Linked DNA regions of Homo sapiens. The protein of the gene in region 1 purifies or fractionates together with the protein of each later gene. This does not show direct contact. Each region holds a gene or a part of one and is shown in the gene's direction. Other genes may lie near its edges.

The links.
Region 2: the proteins of EDEM1 (region 1) and SUFU purify together in Homo sapiens (affinity purification with mass spectrometry; 2 studies listed by BioGRID and IntAct, with this or other methods). This does not show direct contact.
Region 3: the proteins of EDEM1 (region 1) and USP25 purify together in Homo sapiens (affinity purification with mass spectrometry, with the first as the bait; one study listed by BioGRID). This does not show direct contact.
Region 4: the proteins of EDEM1 (region 1) and HSP90B1 purify together in Homo sapiens (affinity purification with mass spectrometry, with the first as the bait; 2 studies listed by BioGRID). This does not show direct contact.

What each region holds. Positions count from the first base shown.
Region 1 is NC_000003.12:5,211,707-5,215,206, forward strand, and holds part of EDEM1 (ER degradation-enhancing alpha-mannosidase-like protein 1), read left to right. Parts: intron 1-1,612; coding exon 1,613-1,816; intron 1,817-3,500. UniProt on the Homo sapiens protein: Extracts misfolded glycoproteins, but not glycoproteins undergoing productive folding, from the calnexin cycle.
Region 2 is NC_000010.11:102,590,972-102,594,471, forward strand, and holds part of SUFU (suppressor of fused homolog), read left to right. Parts: intron 1-1,610; coding exon 1,611-1,753; intron 1,754-2,664; coding exon 2,665-2,750; intron 2,751-3,021; coding exon 3,022-3,094; intron 3,095-3,500. UniProt on the Homo sapiens protein: Negative regulator in the hedgehog/smoothened signaling pathway. Down-regulates GLI1-mediated transactivation of target genes. Down-regulates GLI2-mediated transactivation of target genes. Part of a corepressor complex that acts on DNA-bound GLI1.
Region 3 is NC_000021.9:15,834,482-15,837,981, forward strand, and holds part of USP25 (ubiquitin carboxyl-terminal hydrolase 25), read left to right. Parts: intron 1-3,500. UniProt on the Homo sapiens protein: Deubiquitinating enzyme that hydrolyzes ubiquitin moieties conjugated to substrates and thus, functions in various biological processes including inflammation and immune response.
Region 4 is NC_000012.12:103,936,910-103,940,409, forward strand, and holds part of HSP90B1 (endoplasmin precursor), read left to right. Parts: intron 1-785; coding exon 786-897; intron 898-1,430; coding exon 1,431-1,550; intron 1,551-2,599; coding exon 2,600-2,716; intron 2,717-3,500.

The sequences.
Region 1 (3,500 bases):
GGACCTGGACGAACCCTTTGGTATTACCTAATGTTCATATGTTCATCATTTCCCTCACAAGAACTACAGCCTACACAGAGGTCAGGCGACTTGCTCAAAGTATGGCGATGGCTGTGGCAGAGCTGAGGTGTGAACTGTGGTCCTGACTCCCTGTCTGGTGCTCTTTCCATCTCACCGCTCTGCCTCGTGCATACAGCCACTCTCGTGCCCCCTGCCACTTTCCTCAGTATGGCCACATAGAAACAGAGGGCAGGATTTCCAGGTTAGAAGATAGCATGGCAACTGAGAACTTGGGCAGAGGGTCAGAGATAGAAGCAGCTGTGATAAATTGTGTTTATCTAGTTCCGTGGTTCCTAGGCCTGGGGCTAGCTGGGTCCAAATCACCCTGGGGCCCTTGCTAAGATGACAGCCATATTAAGTCAGAATCTTCAGAATAAGCGGGCTCAGAAATCTGTCATTTTGACAAGTGCCTCCAGTGGTTTCACATGAGCCAGGTTTTGGAGCTGCTGGTCTAATCCATTAAGACGATACTCTTCTCTGTCTGGGGTCTTTTCACAGATGACTGCAGAGGTATGTCCACCAGCAGCCCATGTGATCTGTCCAGTGGGAAGACAGCTGTCCTGCTGTCGATTCCTGTGTGTGCAGTGGTTCTTGCTCTCCTTGCAGGTGGCTCAGTTCTGCTAAATCAGGCTGGTCAGAGCCTAGCTACATATTTCCATCCAGCAGCCACTGGTGTCAGAAGGACGTTAACAGGGCGAGTTTTAGAGTAAAAGGAAGGTGACCCTGGAGGGTGTGCTAGCTGAAAGAACCTAGAGTCTGGGGAGAGGAAAACCTGTGGTCTACCCTGTTCTTCTCTTGTTACTGTGTAAACATTGACAAGCTGCACTGAATCTCATTTTTCCTCATCTTGAAATAGTTTAGGTGACCAATAAAGTTTCAAAGAGTTTCTAGGTATTCATTCATTCAACATTCACAGAACACTTGCCTTCTCCTGCACTGTTGCATCCCATATTGGGTTAGATGTTCTTTCTAGATGCTCTTTCGTTCCGTGTCACATGCACCATTGAGGGAAAGGACTGTGCCTTGTGTCCATTGCGTCTTCAGAGCCCAACCCTTGTTGTGCAAGAAGTGAAGTGAATGTTGGCAGATGTGTTGGGCTCTGTGCTAGGCCCTGGGGAAATGGTGGTGGATAAAACTTGGTCCCTCCCTGTCAGCATTTACAGTTCAGGGTCTAGGTGTGTGTGAGGTTGGGTGTAGTTCTAGAATTCCAGCAGGAGAACTCTTAGGTAGCACATGGAAATCATCCAGTGAACTTTTATAGACTACCTGTGCTTGGGCCTTAGTTTCAGAATTTCTGAGTCTCTGCGTCTGGGCAGGGTATGTGTAGGGGAGAGGCAGGTCTGGGCATCTGAGTTTAGATGAAGCAGGTGATTCTGCCTTGCAGCCTGGGTTGGGCACCACAGTTGTCAGTCAATTCCTTTTCACCCAGTTGTCACTGAGAAGCATGAGGCCCAAGCAAATTCTACTCCCTGAGTAGCTGGGACACGCCCCCATGATTCAGTTCCCAGTGTGCTACAATTATTGGTTGTATCTTTTTCTCCGTTCCCTCTAGCTGTTTGATGAAGACAATCCAGTACACAAGTCTGGAACCAGATACATGTTCACAACAGAGGGACACATTGTATCTGTGGATGAGCATCTTCGGGAATTGCCATGGAAGGAATTCTTCTCTGAAGAGGGAGGGCAGGACCAAGGGGGAAAGTCTGTGCACAGGCCGAAACCTCATGAGTTAAAAGTCATCAACTCCAGCTCCAACGTGAGTTGCTTTTTCCAGGGGTGATTTGCATATAGAGGAAGAGAAGATACTATGAATTGCTTAGTTGTTCAGACTTCCTGACAGAAAATTGATGGTGTATGCAGATTGGGAGATTTGAAAACACCTCCTAAAGACACCATTTACATAGCTGTTGTCAGGGTATAGGGAAACCGCAGGAGCAGCGGTGGCATCATCACTGCTGGCTGCAGGTGCTGGTGGGGAGAGTGGCTACAGGATCCTGGAAGGGGGGAGCCTTGTGGGAGGAGCGAGCACTCAGCAGGAGCCACGGCTCAGATCTGACTTTCAAGGCCTTGCCTGGAGGGAGCCGGCAGAGTCAACATGTGACCCCTCCCCGCTCCCCCAGTTGCCTGCTGGAGCATCTTCTTGGCTGCCTGGGGCAGAAGCTGGAGGCCGAGGGAGCCTGTTGATATGATCCATCAGTGGACCTGGAGGGGCAAATGGAAGACATTCAGCAAAATCATTTACCAGCAGCAGAAGGGAAAAAAAGCAGTGATGGTCACGATGGTCCCAATGAAGATGCTCTTCGAAGTGCAGCAAACACCCACATTCATTTAAAGTGGGGCTTTACTCCACATGCCTAGATTGTCCTGAGAAGCAGCAGGAAAAATTTGGAAATGGAAGTCCTTGCATCCCTAGTGAAAGTATCAGGTAGTTGTGTTGATTTGAATCAAATAGGATGATTTGGAAGTGAGGATAGGGAAATGTAGGTCAGTCAAAATTTCAAATCTTGTTATCCCCCAGGGCCTTGGTGGTCAGGAGTTCGGCAGCCTCCCCACAGATGGGTTGCCTTGGCATTAGGGGTGCCCTCTCATCGCCGACTGTGCTTCAGTGCTTTTCCGTTAATGCCCCAGTGAAGGTCTTCACCATCAGTCTATGAAGTAAATCGATAGGCCAGAGTGTAGATAACCACCCCCGCCCCCATTTCCATCAGTCATGGAGCGCTGATTGAGTGGACAAAGCATAATCGGGAGGAAGGGGAAGGAGGGTGAGAGGGGGAAGAGTTAATAACAGCCAGCATTTGCAAACACATACCAGGGTTAGCCTTTGCACCATTCTAAACGCTTACGTACATTAATCTGTTTACTTCTAACAACAGCCCTGTGAGGGGTGGTTACTTTTAACATCTCCATTTTACAGCTGAAGAAAGGGAGGCACAGAGAGGTTCAGGTCCCACAGTGGAGCCAGGATTTGGACCCAGGCAGTGTCTTCTCTTTTAGGAAGGAGACATCTCTGACCTGCCATACTCACTAATAGATCTGATCCCATGATTCCAGGCACCAGGGATTCAGGCCCTCAGAAGGGCTCCCGGTTCTGGATAGGAGCATGGCCTAGTGGGGAATCCACTTCCATCCTAGGCGTTTGTCTGTAGTGCTGTTGAAACACAGAGGGTAGGGAGTAATCTCCAGAGAAAATCAAGGCAGGATTCCCTGAGGAGGTCACTTGCTGGAGATCCTTGAAGGATGAAAAGGGGTATCCCAGAAAGGGTGTTCAGGCAGAAGCAGTAGCACCTGCAAAAGCACAGAGATGTGGGCTGGTGGGGGCAGTCGGGACCAATGGAAGGACCGGCCAGTCTTGATCTTGCCAGGGATGAGGAGCAGGGTGTAGTAAGTTCAACTTACTACAAAGCGTGGGGAAAATGTTTCTTTGGAGATGAAGCAGATAA
Region 2 (3,500 bases), on another chromosome or scaffold:
CTTCCTTCTCCTGCCTGAATGAACACTATTGAGGTTAGGACCAATAACTGAAGCCGTATCTTGGATGGAAAAGGTGTGTCTGTGTGTGTATGTGTGTGTTCTGCCTTACCTTAAATATTGATAAAAAGTGAAGAAAGATACCTCAACTGTTGAGATTCCGAGATCGTGAATGACAGACCATAGTGAACTCTGGAACAGCCATTTAAAGAATGAGATAGCTCTCCATATGCTGAGAAGCAGTGATCTCTGCTGGGTGCTGTGGCTCATACTTGTAATCCCCGCACTTTGGGAGGCCGAGGAGGGCGGATCACGAGGTCAGGAGATCGAGGCCATCCTGGCTAACACCGTGAAATCCCACCTCTACTAAAAATACAAAAAATTAGCCAGGTGTGGTGGCACATGCCAGTAATCCCAGCTACTCAGGAGGCTGAGGCAGGAGAATCGCTTGAACCCAGGAGGCGGAGGTTGCAGTGAGCAGAGATCGCGCCACTGCACTGCAGCCTGGCAACAGAGCGAGACTCCATCTCAAAAAAAAAAAAAAAAGGTGATCTCGTGCTCACTTCAGCAGCACATATACTAAAATTGGAACGATACAGAGAAGATTAGTATGGCCCCTGCGCAAGGATGACATGCAAATTCGTGAAGTGTTCCATATTAAAAAAAAAAAGGTGCTGTCTAAGATATATAATTAAGTGAAATCTGCAGAATAGTGTGCTTCCATTTGTGTAAGGACAAAACATGGAAGGGAGCCTGTGGATGCATAGGCTGGACATATAGAGCACCTTGGCACCCACGATGAGAGTCAGAGCTGGTGAGAGACTTAGTACCCTGTGGGGTTGTTTTCCCTTGTGGTTATGTGGCCTTAAACAAAACTCTCTCTAAAGTAACGTACCTGCTTGAAGTGCAGTGGTGAGCCTGTGTGTGAGGAGGCTATGCCCTCATGGCAACAGCTACCCTTGGCAGAATCTGAACATCTCAGAGACATGGCCTGAGGATCCTCATGAGTTGTCTCTGCCACGGTGTGGGAGGCACTATTTAGACCTCCATTTACTTGAAGCCTAGTGTTCCTCAGGAATTCCTACATCTGCCTGTGGGAAAATGGTGATAGATTTCAAAGGCTCTCCAAGGTTCGATGTTTCCTTCTGAGTGCCATTTCAGCAACATAGGAATTTCGGTCTGTTTCTCCAAGGTGAAGGGCTTTCATTGCCCTGTTGCCTCTCTGTGGACTTCTGGCCAGGTGGCCCTACAGAAAAGCACCTTATTCTTTCTTGGCAGATCCAGTCATGGCTCCTGCCTCCCACCATGAGTCGGGATATTGGGGAAGCGAAGCAGATGCCAGAAGTCTTTCTGGTTTCCCAGGCCGAAGGAGCTTTCACACTAATAGCCTGTCCTTTTCAAGTCTGACAGAACTGGCAAGCAGGAACAATTTAGGTTTTTGGAAATATCCACAAACTCTTTGCTTCCATCCGGAGTGAATGCTTCTCTTCCTTCACAGGGGCTACCCTAAGAGGCTGGGAAGCCTCCCAGCCTGGGCTAGTGAGATCCCAGCCCAGATTCCAGGCCTGGATCTGGGGCCTTGAACAATGAGGATCCTTGTATCTCTCCCACAGAGAACACCTTCTGCAGTGGGGACCATGTGTCCTGGCACAGCCCTTTGGATAACAGTGAGTCAAGAATTCAGCACATGCTGCTGACAGAGGACCCACAGATGCAGCCCGTGCAGACACCCTTTGGGGTAGTTACCTTCCTCCAGGTGAGGCACAGGTTGGACGCTGGCTCAAGCCTTCCTGTGGGAAGGGTCCTGGGAGGACAAGGAGGCTTGAGGAGGGGGAGTGAAGGGAGTGGGAGGTTTCCTTTGGCCTCGTCCTGATTTCTGTTTCCTCTGATGGTTTGTCAGGTAGATTCAGATGGTCTGATTTAACCTGCTGAGATGGGAGAGGGGAGAAAGGGAAGGGGGCATTTGGTTGGGAGAGAATGGCTGTAGCTGAGAGGGAGTAATGGGGTGGCGGGTATTCTTTGAACAGTGAAGACCCAGTCTCAGGAACAGGACTTTCCAGCGGGAAGCCAGCTCTGGGTCGTCCTTGCTCTTTGCCAGAAGCTGTGGGAACCTGCCCAGCTTTGACCAGTGCTTGTTTTTGGTCACGAAGTCTATGTGAAGGTTCCACTGATTCCCTTGATATTTACACAAAGGCCTATCCCCTAATAAGGAAGGGAGGAGTTTCTCTGCAGGCTGCTATGACCTATTGGTGGTGGTTCCAAGCCTGATAGGTCTCAAAGTCTCTTGTTTACATTCCCCATGATACCAGACTGGGTAGGAATGGCTCCCTGAACCTCCCCTACTTCCAGAGACATGGCCTGAGGACACATCTTGAGTTGCTCAGGCCTTGGTTTTCTCCTTTGTAGCTAAGAGCTAGACTTGGTGTCATCCAGACACAGCAAGGGCAAGGGTCAGGCCTCAGGGCCCACATGTGGACCCAGCCATTTCCCAGCCAGGCAGCCACTCCCTCCTAAGGGAATCATCCAATCTTGGCTGCACCAGCTCCTGAGCACAGATCCTGCCTGTGGTCTCCCAACTGGAGGTGACTCAGAGAGCCTGGGTAGCTGACCTTCTTGGGGTGGGGGGTGGCCATTAACACACAATGGGCTTTCTATCCTGGGCCTCAGATCGTTGGTGTCTGCACTGAAGAGCTACACTCAGCCCAGCAGTGGAACGGGCAGGGCATCCTGGAGCTGCTGCGGACAGTGCCTATGTGAGTACCCATGCAAGGTGGGAGCGCGGCTCCCTGGGCCTGGGGGTGGGAGTCCCTCCACTACCCTCCATGTGGGGCTCCCTCTTGCGTTGTTATTTCAGACCCTGGTTTTTCACATCAGGGCTTCCTGACGACTCACTCCCTGACAGTCCCTGACCACGAACTATTCCCCTGTGTCCTAGGCCTGGGGCAGCAAACAGGGCAGGCTGTAGGCCCAGCCCATCAGCCCCAGACCCTCAGTTACCATTGTATCCCCTTTCCTTGTCCACAGTGCTGGCGGCCCCTGGCTGATAACTGACATGCGGAGGGGAGAGACCATATTTGAGATCGATCCACACCTGCAAGTATGTCTTGAGTGAGGAAAACCTTTCTAGCACCCTGTGCCTAGGCCTCTTCCAAATAACACTGGCTTTCATCCTGGGAAAACAGAGGACCTTTATGTGTGAGTGAGTAGAAATATGGCATCACTTGGAACTTGTCCCCTGAATTCTGCAGAGCACGTAGGGAGCAGAGGTTTCAGCCCAGGAAAGCTAGTCCTCAGACATATGTATTTTGGCATTTTAAAAGGATATTTTTATTGTATGTAAATTATATATTGGCTTAAAAAATTAGATTGCCAGCAATAAAAGATAAGTGTAGTGGATATTGCTTGCTTGCCCAGTATTCATTCTCCTGCCTCCCAGACTTTCTTTTAGGGAGCCACCACGGCCACCACCGCCCTGTACCAGACAGTAGTGTAGGTGATACTGA
Region 3 (3,500 bases), on another chromosome or scaffold:
GTTCCAGCTTTTGTTTGTTTAATTTCATCTTTCGCAGACAGAGGTTTCCTTGCAGCATTACCTGGTTGGGCTTCAGCATTATCATTTGAACTTTAGAAGGAATTATTACTTCAATAGAAGATTGTTTTACAGTGCTACAATGTAGTATTGTGACTGTCGCAGGCATGCACAAATCTGTCCAGATACTTAACTTATTTTCATGTAGATCAAATAATTGTCGTTGATTTTGATCCTGAGAGGCAGATAATTCAGCATTTTTTAAAAAGATAATGGTATCACAGCAACATTTGGATACTACAGTGCTATGGAGAATACCACCATTATAGTGGCTGGTGAACTCTACCATTATGTAGGGCTGCACTTTTCCCCCACGTGTACAAGGCTACCGCGTAGAGCAGGTGAAGCTATGTGGGTCCACAACAATGTAGTTTTTAGTAGATGTCAAGAGGTATCTAAGCTCAAATCACAGTGTAGTAACTATATTATAGTTCCTTTCATTTTTAAAACATTTCTGTCCCTTTGTGATTTCATGCTTTGCATTCTGTACATATTCTTTCCAAATCACTCCTCAGAACCTGCCCCAAGATGGAGCTACTGTGTTATTGTTCCCTTAACATTTACTTATTCCATTCACATGTGACTATTCTTGTTATTAGTGGGAGGAAGGGGCTGCATAGTGTACTATAAGCAGTTGTGGTACCTAAGCTCCCAGACACAGGTGAATCCTCCATTCATTGGTTAAGCTCCAGTTTTATTCTTGGCTCACCTATATTTTGTGATACCAAAATATTAAGTTCTATATATCCTCCTCCTCTTCATCCTGTCTGTTTCTCATCTCTCCAAATTTTCAGAGTTAACATATTTTATTTCTGCTTAGTCAAACGAATACATATTTCCAACTAATATTCCTATCTATTAAGGACTAGCCTTGCCCCATCCTCATTTTACATTTGTCATCTTTTTTCTTTCTCTGTGAAAAGACCATGTGTGCATAACTGCATCCATTTTCATGATCAATACATCTGACCATACACTTTACATGGTGTTTTGTAATTTTTAAAAAATGCAGTACTAGGTATTGGACATATATTTTCATGTCTGTTTTTACCATGCAAAATAATCTTAGAATGTTGATATATTTCTGGGAGGAACCAGAATAAAAGATGAAGAGATGGAAATGGTCAATTCCTATTCCTAGATAACTTTTATAGTTACCTTTCAGCGTGGGTTATTTAGAAAGCAGTGGTAATACTACTTCTGTAGGAAACATTGTATCCTCCATAGACTTGACGGAAATATGCACTTGGTTTGAATTAGTAGAAGTAGAACATGCCAAGTCCATAAATTTACAGAGTGAGATTGTTGTTTAAAAGATTGGTTTCTATTACTGTTATCTTTGAGATTATATTAAGAAATTTGTTCTCTGTTGCAGGATAGTTTCACATATCATAATTGAATAAGACTAATGTTTCATTAGAACCATTTATTCCCTATTATTAATAGGGAAATTTTATTTTAATGTCCATGCCATCCTCTTCTGATTCTTCTCATGGTTTTCAAAGTAAGTAATTTAATTTGGTATAATACTTCCAGGATCTCAAAGCAAATCTGTATTTTAATCTCTCAGGTGTTCACTAGTATTACCAGTGACTAGTGGAAATAATAAAAGGAAATCTTGTTCATAAAATCCAACAGAATGATTTTTTTCCTCCCTGCAAAATCTTCTCGTTAAAGCTGAAACATAAGACCTCATAAAATTCAATTTCTACTGAGTGATATTCCAATTAAGAGTACTAATTCATATTATATTAATCAAATTAGTATTTGTTCCTCTTCTGCTAAAATGTGATCGAGAAATTCATGCGTATCAGTTCACCAGCACCATTCGTTCCCTACTGAGATAATAAATGATGGGAAAGTATTTTTTGGTTCATTTCATGCTGCTTCCCTAGATCTGCTTACTGCAAAGGCAAACTTACCTGAATACTTTTGTTGAGATTTTCAGCCAGCCATTCTTTGCTGTCAGTGTGGGGATCAGAATGAGTAGGGGAGCAAACTTACCTGAATACTGTTGTTGAGATTTTCAGCCAGCCATTCTTTGCTGTCAGTGTGGGGATCAGAATGAGTAGGGGAGCAAACTTACCTGAATACTGTTGTTGAGATTTTCAGCCAGCCATTCTTTGCTGTCAGTGTGGGGATCAGAATGAGTAGGGGAGCAAACTTACCTGAATACTGTTGTTGAGATTTTCAGCCAGCCATTCTTTGCTGTCAGTGTGTGGATCAGAGTGAGTAGGGGAGCAAACTTACCTGAATACTGTTGTTGAGATTTTCAGCCAGCCATCCTTTGCTGTCAGTGTGTGGATCAGAATGAGTAGGGGAGCAAACTTACCTGAATACTGTTGTTGAGATTTTCAGCCAGCCATCCTTTGCTGTCAGTGTAGGGAACAGAGTGAGTAGGGGAGCAAACTTACCTGAATACTGTTGTTGAGATTTTCAGCCAGCCATCCTTTGCTGTCAGTGTGTGGATCAGAGTGAGTAGGGGAGCAAACTTACCTGAATACTGTTGTTGAGATTTTCAGCCAGCCATCCTTTGCTGTCAGTGTGTGGATCAGAGTGAGTAGGGGAGCAAACTTACCTGCATACTGTTGTTGAGATTTTCAGCCAGCCATCCTTTGCTGTCAGTGTGTGGATCAGAGTGAGTAGGGGAGCAAACTTACCTGAATACTGTTGTTGAGATTTTCAGCCAGCCATCCTTTGCTGTCAGTGTGTGGATCAGAGTGAGTAGGGGAGCAAACTTACCTGAATACTGTTGTTGAGATTTTCAGCCAGCCATCCTTTGCTGTCAGTGTGTGGATCAGAGTGAGTAGGGGAGCAAACTTACCTGAATACTGTTGTTGAGATTTTCAGCCAGCCATCCTTTGCTGTCAGTGTGGGGATCAGAGTGAGTAGGGTTTTTTTTTCTGAGTGTGAACAGCACACCCTACCTAAGGCCACTTAAGAGACACTGGAGTCAGAATCTCTGGAGAAAGGATCTGATACAGTGCTATCTTAAAGAGATCTTCAGATAATTCTGAGGTTAAGCAGCATGGCTCTAGGCTGTATTTATAAAACAGAAATTATGCTGGAGAGAAGAGCGTTGTCCGAGTTACTATTTTACTTATATTACTCTTGTCTTATCCAAGAAGTATCTGAAGTCCTTACAATATAGCACACCCAGATTTCTTTAAAAAATAAGGAAACACTAGTGAAGATTGGAATGAAGTGTATTGCGTAAGGTTTTATAAATTTCTCTAGAGGAAGCAGGCAGAGTTGGCTCTGGAACTTCTCTACACTGTCTACAAGTTAAAAATAAGCTGATGTTCCAGGAGAGTACGGTTGGATCCTGAGAGTAAGACCTGGTAGAATAAACAGTATCGTCAGTGTTCTCAGATTCCTTGAAAGCAGGAACTAGGTGATATTCTTTTTTTTTTTTCTGAGACAGTTTCACTTTGTTGCCCAGG
Region 4 (3,500 bases), on another chromosome or scaffold:
AAACTAATGAGCCTTTTGAGACAGGGAGGGAACCATAGATAGACCATTTCCCATACTTAATTGGGAACACAAGTATCAAGATATGGACTACCTACTGTGCTTAAGAGTAGGTTCTAGGCCGGGCACAGTGGCTCACACCTGTAATCCCCGCACTGCCCGGTAGAATTTTATATAATAGTAGAAATGTTCTATATCTGCACTTTTCCATTTTGGCGATCACCAGCCACATGTGACTGTTGAGTACTTGGAATGTGGCAGCATAACTGGAACTGAACTGTACATTTTATTTAAATAAGTCACATGTGCCCAGTGGCTGCCATTTTGGATAGTGCAGATATAAATATAAACCAGATTAATTTTCTAGCTTTTTTAAGGAAAATGTTTTCATTAATTAGGAATAGTTATCTACAATAATCATTAGGTTTCTGGAATAACAGTAAGAGCTATGAGAGTGCATGATTCCATTTCTCTCCAGAATATTTCAGTGCTTTCTCACCTTGAAAAATGAAAACAATCTATTCAGACGGTTGGGAATATTTTAATTTTCTACTTAAAACTAAGGTTATTCTCCACTTGAGGTAATGTAGAGGAGATTCTTCTCTTTACTGTATCTACATGTGTTACATTTTAGCTCACAAACCCTTGTTGGTGATGGAGAGTTAACATGAATAATTAGGACATCTTGGATTATACTGAACTGCTGGCTATTACCATGGTATTTAAATGAATTTATAATCAGATCTTCTAAATGTTAGGTGTCTCTAAACATCGAATTTTTCTTGCAGCCTTGTCTTAAAAGAAGAAGCATCTGATTACCTTGAATTGGATACAATTAAAAATCTCGTCAAAAAATATTCACAGTTCATAAACTTTCCTATTTATGTATGGAGCAGCAAGGTAAATCTATATTGATTAAAAACTTATATGTATTACCTTGGCACGTATTTAAATATTCAACACTAAAAGAATGAAGGCAGGCCGGCGCGGTGGCTCATGCTTGTAATCCCCGCACTTTGGGAGGCCGAGACAGGTGGATCACCTGAGGTCAGGAGTTCGAGACCAGCCTGGCCAACATGGCGAAACCCTGTCTCTACTAAAAATACAAAAATGTTAGCTGGGTGTGTGGTAGCACACGCCTGTAATCCCAGCTACTCGGGAGGCTGAAGCAGGAGAATTGCTTGAACCCGGGAGACGGAGGTTGCAGTGAGCCAAGATCGCCCCACTGCACTCCAGCCTAGGTGACAAAGCAAGACTCTGTCTCAAAAAAAAAAAAAAAGAATGAAGGCAAAATGTGGTCTATTAGTTAAGGATACTCTCAGGGTTTTCTTACAAAAACCTATTTTTTGACCTGTAATGTTATATCATATTCTGTAGACAAAATCAGAATTGTTAAACAAATGAGTTTAACCATAATTCTCTTATTTCAACAGACTGAAACTGTTGAGGAGCCCATGGAGGAAGAAGAAGCAGCCAAAGAAGAGAAAGAAGAATCTGATGATGAAGCTGCAGTAGAGGAAGAAGAAGAAGAAAAGAAACCAAAGACTAAAAAAGTAAGTCTGGTTTATCTCCCTGCATAAGATATTGTTTAACATGTATAGGCAAAACCAGGAAAACCTAAGTATGCACTGGCTGATTTGAAGTCAGCTTCAGTTCAGGTGCTAAGTCCATGGAGCCAGCTTTTAAAATAAGGCCTTTGTTTGTATGTTGAATACATTGTCCTGTAGAAAGTTTTAAGTATCAAACCCAGGTCATTTTTATGAAGAGTTTTCTAACTTTTATATATTGCCTAGGACTGGTGGCTTATATGTTTGGAATTTTAAAATCTTAAAAAGCCTTCTGAGTCCTCTTTTGTCTTTTTATCATGCAGAGATTAACCATAAAAATGGTTCTCTGGCTTGCTTAGGTAGCAGACTAAGAAGTATTGATCATGGTGGTTGAGAAATATTTTTGTAAAATGTTGGATTTCTTTAAGTCATGAAATGGGAATATATAATATGTATTTCCTTCTAACCTCAAAACAAATATTTTCAAGAAACATTTTTGCTAGTTAAAAAATAACAATGAAGAAAAACTTAAGTGGCTTTTCATCAGTTAACAATTGTCTTTTTGAATTAAATATTGAGAAAAATACTTTGCTTTTGATACAGTTGGCAGAAACCTTACTAGATAACAGGTATCCTTTGGTGCCCTTTTTTTTTTTTTCTTTAATTTGGAGACAGAGTCTCTGCCACCCAGGCTGGAGTGTGGTAGCACGATCATAGCTCCCTTCATCCTTGAACTCCTAGGCTTAAGCAGTCCTTTCACCTCAGCCTCCCAAGTAGCTAGGACCACAGACACACGCCACCATGACTGGCTAAGTTTTAAAAATTTTTTGTATAGTTGGAGGTCTTGCTATGTTGCCTGGACTGGTCTTGAACTCCTAGGCTCAAACAGTTCTCCTACCCTAACCTCCCAAAGTGCTAGGATTACAGGCGTGAGCCACCACACCAGTCCTCTGGGTCTTTACATAGTCTTTTGAAATCTACTGAAGCCATGGTTACTGCTAGGATAACCTTGGTGAGTGCTGAGAGAGACTAATCAAATACTATAATAACTTCAGGTTGAAAAAACTGTCTGGGACTGGGAACTTATGAATGATATCAAACCAATATGGCAGAGACCATCAAAAGAAGTAGAAGAAGATGAATACAAAGCTTTCTACAAATCATTTTCAAAGGTAAATATTTATAATTCCCTAGTTTCTGGTTATTAATGAATAGACAAAATATCACCCTCTTAGTTTAATTGTATATGGTATGTGACCATGAATATGAGATGGTCCATTCCCATTTTTTCCCAGTGAGAAAATTCAAAAAAAGACCTTTAGGCCAACTATAATATGTCTACTTCTGGTTTATTGACCTAGTCACAATTAAAATCACATTTATGAACCTTTGAGATTGACACCTCAGTAGAGATGGTCTTTGAGAGTAATTGGTTTCCAGAACACACCATTTTTACTTAAGTTGAATTATTATACTCATCACTACTTCAAAATTGCAGCAGTTATTAAAATTAGTCCTAGCTCTTAGTGAATAGTGAAACTACAAAATCAAGAATGTTTGAAACAGTTTTATGGCTGTTTAAACACAATTGGTTTCCTTTTTATTCCTGTGTATTTTGTAATATGTGATTTTTTTAAAAAAATTATTTTGAGAAGGCATCTGTAGCCTTCACCAGCTTGCCAAGGGTTTTGTGTGACAAAAAAAGATTAAGAACCACCTACATAGGTAGATGTGTGATTTCCACCACAAAACCCGTAAAACATGAAATCATGTTGTTAAGTGGCTTTTAATATAATCTTTAAAGAGCTTGCTTATGACATCAAACACTTATTGTGAGATCCTATGCCTGGGAATAATTACTAAATTTATGTTTCCTTGCCTGTTTTTTTTTTTCTTCTTCTTTTATTGATCCCTTCTTGTAACTCTTAAGGATGCAAAACTAGCATTGATAAAGTT